Linked DNA regions of Homo sapiens: all the other regions are reported to be linked to region 3. The links are microRNA targets in miRTarBase. Many come from high-throughput screens and were not tested one by one. Region 3 holds a microRNA gene; each other region holds the end of a gene's coding sequence.

Region 1 (3,000 bases), not on the chromosome of region 3:
CACAGAAAGCTAGGCTAAGGAAATGGATTCAAGACATTTGTATAACACATAGATGGGAAGAGGATTGAACAGAAAAAATACCTCTAGTACAAAACCTGAGGAACACTAATATTGAAAGAGCAGGCATAAGAAGAACCTGTAAAAAAAGATAATGTAGTCAGTATGCTAGGAAAAAACTAGGAGAAAACAGTAAAACAGAAACCACAGAAGGTGATTGAGAAATAGAATTAACTCACTCTTTTTAATGGCTGTGTAAGATGACATAGTATAGATGTACTACAATGTAATAGAACTAAAAACAAAACTAAGCATTAAAAGAAGTTAAATGTTAAGTGCTTTGGAAGACAAGGTTCTTCAGTTGTGAGAAGCGGATTCCATCAACCTTACAGGAATACTGTGGGGATTGAAGTGGATCCTATTCACATACTTCTTACACTATGAGGGCATTCAATACACGTCAAGTTTTCCTTTGTAAAATTAAGTCACTGGCACATGTGGCTAAGATTATGCTTTTACTCCTAGAACTCTTCCCAATCACTCTTGCAAATAACCAGTCATTGCATGTGTACTAGTTTTGTTGTGCCCCGTTATACTCATTGCCAATAAACGTGCCTTCCTCCCACAACCCCCACCCCCCACCCCGACTATACTCTTGGTACCAAATCCTTTGATTTATTGGTTGCACCAAAGTCACAGACTGGCAGAATAAATACTGGTGACATTTTATTTCTTGTCACCTCATTAACGTAGATCAGCTCAGGCTGATTAGTTCTCCTCTACACATTAGTTAGAATGGCTCTGTAACTTGGTGCTATACAGAGAGTAGAATGGTTTGTGATTGTTGCTTTCCTAAGGGGATTTAAAGTTTTTCATTTATTTTTTGTGTGTGCATGCACATGACACTCTCATACATTCTGCCCCATTTCTTTTTTCTTCCCTCAGAGCTAGCTCAAATAAAATAAACATCTTTAGCTCTTTCTTTAGAAAAAGAAGGGAAAATCACATGCCAATCCAAGTAGAGAAAGATACAGAAAACAGAAGCAGGTGGGAAAAGGCACTTTATAATTCATTAATTTATATTGGTATCTCTTAAAATTTTTCTTTTTATGAAAAAGAAGTGAAGAATGTTAGAAGGTCATAAACTAATAAGAGACCACATAGTTTAAAAGATTTGCCACTTTTTTTTTTTAGCTTTATTGACTATTACCAACTTTCAGTATGGTTCAAATAATTAAATACTGCAACTGGGACATTAAAAATACAAGCTAATTTACCAAAATAATTGTATTCTGAATATTATGTACAATATTATACATTTTACATTACATAATGGGTTTTTATACATAAAGGTAAGATTTCTGATTATTGGAAATACAAAGTACAACTGAACAAAACATTCCTATGCGTACATACACAATCACTCAACTGGAACAATCAAAACCATCTATGAGTGTGGTTATTAAAAAATAAAATTACGTTCATACAATGGTAGAAAATGAAATGTTTTTATTAATTTGATTATTAATACAAAACCACACATATATGAATTATATAACCTAGTGTTATATATTTAAAAATCTTTATGCTTGCAACTGAAATGTCTCTACTCCAAGGGAAGTTTCTGATTTTTAATTTTCTTATTTTAAGGAATCTATTATATTCACAATGATTAAAATGCCTTACACATAGGCAAAAAGCAGACCCAATCCCAGCAAACAGAAAAACCATAAGTCTATCATATCACCATATGTTTCACCATATAGTTTTGAAAAATAATCCTATTTGCAGTTTGGTATGTCTTCATATTTATACTTATTATCAAAGTGATTGCATATTGAGGCACAGAGCTTAAAGAGGAAATATATATTACTTATAGGGAACCAGACACTGAAACAAGAATATCAATCAATGGCTTCAAACAAAAAAAAAAAAAAAAAATTGAGAATGGGTGCTCGCATAGAAACACCACACGCAAACACTCATTAGTTTTTAACCAAGTCACTAGTCCTTCCAAAAGGTGAATATGTTGATGTGTCCATACCTTGTTTGAACACTGCAATACCTGATTAAGACCAGGATACTGCCACATGAGTTTTAATACTCTCTCATTTTTAAATTCAATTCCTCTTAAACAGAACAGCTATGATTTTAAAGCAATGACATTTTTCTAATTGATCTGAAAAGTCTGAAAAACAATGTCTTTACAACAAAAATGGATTTCCAATTGTATGTCACTTTGTACATAGATCTCACTCCAGAGATACATAGACTGGTGAAAATTCTATCAGAGCTATACATAAAGACATCAGAAGGGCAGCAATTAGTAAACAGGCCATTCTCTTTAAAGTCTGCATGGCATTTTGCAGTACTCTCTGTTCTTAAATCCTGTATTTTATCAAAGGCAAACAAAGAACACCTGGGAACTGGAAGCCAGAAAGGTAACACGCTGAAACATATACAAAATCAATGAGCTTTCCAACATCACATAATCTATTAAAAAAATTGGGACGTGGGGGCTCAGGTTTACTTTATTGTTTTTCTTCTTTTTCATGTTTAGCTTGAATATAAAAGAAGCTCTAGACCTACGTTATCAAAATATATTCATATAAATGTATGCGCATTTCTAATACAAAAGTTTTAAAAAAGTCTAAGTTCTTAATTTTTGTAATTAAATATCCTAGAGTTCAGTAGGCAGATTTATGTTTGAGCAGCTTGAAAAGAATCCGTTGGCTGAGCGTTGTCTAGAAATTGGGTGCCGCTACATTTCAGCTCTTCGATGTGATTTCTCAGCAACTGCAGCCCCGTCTTCTTCCTCCTCTTCTTCCTCCTCGTAGTGTTCCTCTCGGCCTTTGGGGCGGTTGTCATCTCGAACTTCTTGCTCTTCTCCATCATTATTTTTATCATCAGTCTTAAAATTAAAAGAAAAAAGAAAAACTAAGAGATAGTATAGAGTTAGTGATAAATAATTCTCTCTAAAAACAGGATGAAAAATTACTCATT
Region 2 (3,000 bases), not on the chromosome of region 3:
CCGGGCCGTGTTGAAGATCAGGTCAGCAGAAGGGCGGAGAAAGGCATTCAACACCTGTTCTTCCCACGTGGCTGTGGTGTCTCTGTTTTACGGGAGCATCATCTTCATGTATCTCCAGCCAGCCAAGAGCACCTCCCATGAGCAGGGCAAGTTCATAGCTCTGTTCTACACCGTAGTCACTCCTGCGCTGAACCCACTTATTTACACCCTGAGGAACACGGAGGTGAAGAGCGCCCTCCGGCACATGGTATTAGAGAACTGCTGTGGCTCTGCAGGCAAGCTGGCGCAAATTTAGAGACTCCAGTGCCTTCTGAGAAGGAAGATCAAGTTTACATCGAGCAAAGTGACCTTGGAAGACAGGGCACTTGGGATGTCGTTTTTCTTCTAATATTGTTTGAGCTCAAGGTAGATGGAAATCTGAAAGGAGTGTGCTCATGCCATTTCCAGACCAAGAAAATACATTTATTATTTGCTAATTATCATAGTTTTGTTCAATTGCGTTGTTGGTTTTTGCTATATATACACATGTTGACTGTCATCTTGTTTTGTAAACTCCTTGCGTTGTTGTTCAGCTGTTCCTCAGTATCCGAAGCGGGTGGATTCCAGGACGCTCCGTGGATAATAAACTTTGACGACGCTGAGAGCGCGCGGGGAGACCGGAGCCGGCCTGTTCCCCAGAGCCCCCGGAGCCCTCCCAGCCCTCAGGCCTGCGCCTGGGGTGAGCTGAGCCCGGGACTCCGCCTTGCAGGCTCCGGAACCCTCGCTGTGGCTCCCCCGCTCGGCCCAGGCCTTGAAGCCGCGGCGAACCTCTTCCTACCCTACCTCGGGGACCTGGTGGCAGCGGCGGCCTCCCCCAGCCTGGACCCCGCCGGCCGCGGGTCTCCCGGCCCAACCCCACCGACCCAGACCAAGACCGCGCCGAGCCGCCGGGACTCAGCGCCTTCGGGTGGCGGCGGTAAGCGGGGAGGAAACATGGCGCCGCCCAAATGCGCCCGGAGGCCGTTAGGCTGTGGAGGGCGAGGAAGGCGGTCCAGAGGCGGCCGGCAGGTCCACGTCCTGGGCGACCGCTCTGTCGCAGTTGGGCGAGACCTACCTAGTCCTGACGGGTCGTATTTCCAAGACATTTTCATATTCTATCCATTGTTTTGTGTGCATTTTATTACTTCTGTATATAGAGGTAACAACGCTAAGCTTTTTTGAGATGTCTGTTTCTTCTAGATGTTCTGAAGTACCTGATACATGTTAAAATTAGAGGTAGTAAAATGACACATTTTGTAAATAACTTTTTGTTAAAATTCATAGGAAATGTTATTTTGTGGGGGGGGGATGGCATGGTGTTTGTGGACTGGTTCAGGGAAGGAGGGGAAAAGGGAGGTGCAGAGAGCTCTAAGCCAGTGTGCTTACAGTGAGGCGAGATTCACCATTGTTTCTTATGATTGTGCATTTTGTTTTACTTATCTATGTATACAGTGTATCTAAAGGACAAACGAGTCCTAATTTACAACAGCTAGTCTTTCCAGATGTTAAAGAACTTCTATCAATAGAGTAACCTATCACTAGAGTTCACCTCTATCAATAGAGTAACCTCATTCTCTGCCTGATGATTCAAAGGCATGGGAAGACCAAAACCATGTGGCAGTTCCTGTTTTTGATTTTATTATATATATGTATATAATATGAAAGTAGTCATTAAAGTAGTCTTTCCTTTCGTACTAGGATCTTCCAATTCACTGTATTAGTCAGGGTTCTCCAGAGAAACAGAACCAAAAATATGTGTAAAAGAGAATACACACACACACACACACCCTGAGGGGGAGAGAGAGAAAAAAGAGTGAGAGAGATTGAGAGTTAAGAAATAGGCTCACACAATTTAGGGAACTGGCAAGTCTGAAATTTGCAGGGCAAGCCAGCAGGCTGTAAATTTTGACAGAGGTTGATGTTGCAGCTTGAGTTCAAAGTCTGGAGGCAAAATTCCCTCTTTTTGGAAGCAGGTCAGTCTTTTCTCTTAAGGCTTTCAACTGATGGGATGAGACCCACTCACATTATAAAGGGTAATCTGCTTTACTAAAAGTCTACTGATTTAAATGTTAATCGCATCAAAAAAAAAAAAAAAAAAAAAAAAAAACACCTTCACAGTAACACCGAGGCTTGTGTTTGAACAAAAACTGGGCACCATAGTCCAACCAAGTTGATATGTAAAATGAACCATCACACCAAACCCAAACTTTCAGTGAAGTGAAGCAACATTCTTCAACTGGATTATTATGCATCATGTACGAGACACTCTCATGTCTTGTTGGTTTCTGGACTCATGTATCAGGTTACGGTGACTGCAGGTTTAGGGCATACACTGCAGCCTGCAGGAAAGCAGTGCTTATTTACACAGTATTGTTTCTCAGCTTCAATAACTAAACCTTCAGCAGGCCATTCCATCATTCAATAAAGCCCATTCCATCATTCAGTCAAGCCCACTGCTTCTGAATATTGAGGTATGAAGTATGAATCATGAATTCCAAGGGCAATTCTATTGCCACACCCCTTTTGCTGTGAAATATGTTTCCTGGTTACAGGTGATATTGCAGGGGATGCCATGGTGATGATTAAGGCTTTGTTCACTATGTAAATGGTTCGGGCATGGAAGACAAAACTGTCCCCACAATATTATTCTGTCCCTATAAAGACTAACATTGCTTACTCTATGCTCAAAGGAGTCCAGAGTAATCACTATGCTACTAGTCCAGCCAGACGCCTGGAAATAGTGCCAAATCACATGCTAACCTTGGTGAGAGAAATGTCATAATGCTGAGCCCATTCATAGTTTCCATCCCTGCTTCCATGTTAAATTTCTCATAGGCTCAATGAGCAAGCCTGCTGGCAAAAGAGATTGACTGATTACCTACTAGATGAGTCATCTTATCTACCATACCACCAAGATCCATCTCTGCAGTGGATGCCCTCTCATGGGCATTTATGTCAGACAGATATCTTCATGATCTGTGC
Region 3 (3,164 bases):
TTGTTCTTCCTTCCCTGACGTTTATCACCCTTCTGATTATTTTATATTTGTATTGTCTACCTCTTGCATGAGAAAGACCTCCAAGAGGGCAGGGTTCGGGGCCTATTTTGTTCACTGTTGCATTCGTAACGTCTAGAGTAACACCTGATGCTCGGGAGGTGAAAATACACTGATTGCTAAACGACTGAGGTCTATGAGACCATGCCAGGTTTACAGTAAGCACCCCAAGACTGCCGATTTTCCCAGTTCCTATTCCTGGCATCCTTAGCACCAGAGTAAACCACAGCCCTCCTGCTTGGTTAGTCCTTAACTCACTTGTGGTCACAAACAGGAGAAATGCAAATCACTTAAGCATAGAAGTCAAACCAGACTGAATCATGTCAGGGACTCCAAACCTTGCCTTTCTCTGGAGGTGAGAGATCCTGACCTAATTCCTTTGTATGGATGACTACTCTCCCAGTCAACCGCTCCACTCTTTACCTCCCATTCTCTTACAAAGTTGATTTAAGTTTTCTTAAAATTCAGTATATTCAGACTATCTTGTGGAGATGTACAGACATAAGAACTAGGAAAGAGAATCCTCTTCCTCAAGTAAGCATACCTTACATCTCAAATGAACACAAGACGTACTTGAGTTTGGATCACTTTATTTAACTGCACAGAAATAATTCAGCCATTTTTGGGTAAAGGATTGAGGAACAAAAGCAAAGCAGTCACTGATGGAAAAGTGGGAGAATGGATAATGGCCACACAAAAGAGAACACATGCTGCCTTAGGATCAATACACAGCATTTCTGTGAAAAGCAACTGGTAGGTCCTGCCATTAAGCTCTAACATCAAGCAGCTGAATACTTTCTCCCTCATTGAGCCTTCCTCCATTATCATCCCTCTCCCGATGATAAACCACTGGAATATACCTAAGTAAAAAAAATGGTGGCTTTCTTTACCAAGGGCTTCCCAGAGACACAAGCAACCCCCAGGTTTCTGAAGCATCCCATAAAATACATCAGAAGGCCCTTCCCTTACCTGTCAGCACCACGGGCACAGGAACCATTTCCTTTTTTCCCTACCACCCTGCGTCCTGTGCCTGGCCAAAAGCTCATAAAACCAAAACAGGGCAATGTCCATGGAACAGGACTACAATTTGGTGCCAGTCACTGACCCACTATAGAGAGCAGGCTATTGATAGAAACTCACCAACCCAAACCTCCATTCCACTAGGGATGAGAGAGCAGTCTCTCCACCTAAAGGATCTCCACAGCCCAAAAGCATAAATGTCCCCCTCCCCCAGTGGCTTTCAAAATGCTTTCTTGGAAAAAGTTCTTCCTTTCCATTAATAAAACTTACTTTAAAAAACAAAAGTGAACTGCATCTAAATCGGAAGCAGAATTGAGACTAGATCTCCAAACTCAATCCCTGCAGGCTGTCATTTATCCAGCAGGTCGCTTGAGTAAAAGGACCATTATCTGTGGCTTTTGTACAAATACATTTCCTTCTTTAAGGGTAGAGAGTTTAAATTCCTGCAAGGCACTGCACACTAACACACCCATTAATAAATCTGCAGCTCTCCTGGCTCAGTTTAAGTGAGGCCAGTCTTTCAGTACCTGTTAAGCAACCTTGAAAAGTCCAAAGCTTTATTTTTTTCTTCTTTAAACCAAAAAATTCTACAGTCAGGAGTCCACCAGGGTAAGATGAAGAGATTTGGGGGGATTTTGTTCCCATTTACAGGGTTTAACCCACCCGCTTCAAGGGAATTGGTCAAGTTCCTCGTGCTGCACTTGGACCCCCTCTGGCCTTGCCCCTCCCCCAAGGGAAAGGCGCAGCGACGTGGCCACCAGGGCCACTCGGCCTGGCGTCTGGAGCACTGGCGGCATCGGCGACCACAGCCTCTAGAGACAAAGTTCTGTAGTGCACTGACTTCTATCATACTCAGAGTCGGAGTGTCTCAGAACTTTGCCTCAAAAGACCAAACGTGCTGTCTTCCTCCAGAAGTTTCTTCCTGCAGGTGTGTTCCCCCACCCCCCAGCTAAGACAAAGAAGAATAACTCGTTAAAAGCAATTTAGTTCAGGATGCGACCGATAATGGAACGGGTCATTAATTATGGAAAGTTACTGCCGCAGTCAGCAGGAGCAAATGCCCAACAGAAATGGTGTTTTAACAGCCCGATTCGACAAATTCTGGTCGCAATGTCACAGCAAAGGGGCTGCAAGAATCGCACACTCTCCTTCCTTCCTACCCGTCCTCAGATTAGAACCCATTCCTGGTCGAACCCTCACCTCCCTCGGTAGTTATTTAAACTTTTGCCAGCAGCTAACTCACTCTAACTTGTGGCAACTTTTTACCTTCCCATCTGGAAAGCTGGGGGCGGGGGCGCTGCACGAGGACGAATATTCGGAGCTGAAAGAGTTAAACGGTGGGGAACAAATACAGGCCCGGGAAAAGCCCCTAAGATGGGACGACCCAAGAAAGACCCGCTTTGCGGGGCCTCCCCTGAGACCCCCTTCCCCAGCCATTCCCAGTACTCTATTCCCGGTCTTCCAGCCGCCCGCGCCCAGCCCCGGGAACTCGGGTCGAAGTCGTCCCATCCCCTCCGTTCCACCCACCCACTCTTTGGGATTCTCCCTGCCCCATTAGGCAGTGCTTCCCGCGGACCCCGTTCGCGCACAACCTTGCACACAGTCCCCAAGACTGCTCTTCTCCCCCTCCCGGCACCCCCTTTTCCCTGCAGCATAAGCGACCACTCTGTCCCCCATCCTAGCAGACCCCCTCCCCCCACATACCGCACCTGAACAGCTGTTGCGCGCGTGCAACAGGTCTGGAAAGTGCTTTCCCATCTTCCCCCAAACCCCTCGCCACCGTTCCATCCCCCGCCACCCCTAAGAGACAAGGCCGGAGGGGCAGTGGGCTGCGTCCCCCGGGCCGGGGTGCACGGGCGGCTGGCGGAGTGCGGGGCGCCCAGAGGCTCCCGGGGTTGGGGGCGGTGGTCGCGCTGGGCCGGGACACCTTCGCGAGTGGCCCCTCGTGCGCCCGCCGCAGGCTCCCCAGCCTGCCCCTCCAGCGCCGGCCGCCAGGCATTCCCGGGCCGGCTCCCCCCTCGCGCTCCGCTCCGCTCCCTTCCATCTTGACTTTTGCCGACGTGGAAATTTTGGGTTTGGAGACGACC

What was found. The annotated mature microRNA hsa-miR-148a-3p reads UCAGUGCACUACAGAACUUUGU and lies in region 3 at 1,896-1,917, opposite strand. An mRNA with a match to its seed (bases 2 to 7 or 8) in the 3' UTR can be bound and repressed. Matches are read on the target gene's strand: a 7mer-m8 pairs with bases 2 to 8, a 7mer-A1 pairs with bases 2 to 7 and ends in A, and an 8mer does both.
Region 1: the mRNA of GOLIM4 is a reported target of hsa-miR-148a-3p. The part of its 3' UTR that is shown has no 7-base or 8-base seed match.
Region 2: miRTarBase lists OR2C3 as a target of hsa-miR-148a-3p. The part of its 3' UTR that is shown has no 7-base or 8-base seed match.

Annotation. Positions count from the first base shown.
Region 1 is chr3:168,007,511-168,010,510 of GRCh38, forward strand. GOLIM4 (golgi integral membrane protein 4) reads right to left here. Exons shown (of 16, transcript NM_014498.5): 16 at 1,179-2,908. The coding sequence ends at 2,759. Among named protein-coding and RNA genes, the nearest start is that of GOLIM4, 87 kb to the right of the region's middle.
Region 2 is chr1:247,528,844-247,531,843 of GRCh38, reverse strand. It overlaps OR2C3 (olfactory receptor family 2 subfamily C member 3), which reads left to right. Exons shown (of 3, transcript NM_198074.6): 3 at 1-3,000. The coding sequence ends at 295. GCSAML-AS1 (GCSAML antisense RNA 1) reads left to right here and starts at 1,040. Exons shown (of 4, transcript NR_027309.2): 1 at 1,040-1,254. It also overlaps a transcript of GCSAML not described here.
Region 3 is chr7:25,948,027-25,951,190 of GRCh38, forward strand. MIR148A (microRNA 148a) reads right to left here and starts at 1,960; the gene lies at 1,893-1,960. The region is part of intron 6 of LOC105375199 (a long non-coding RNA gene); the gene reads right to left. RefSeq lists an enhancer at 1-70 and a silencer at 2,914-3,053.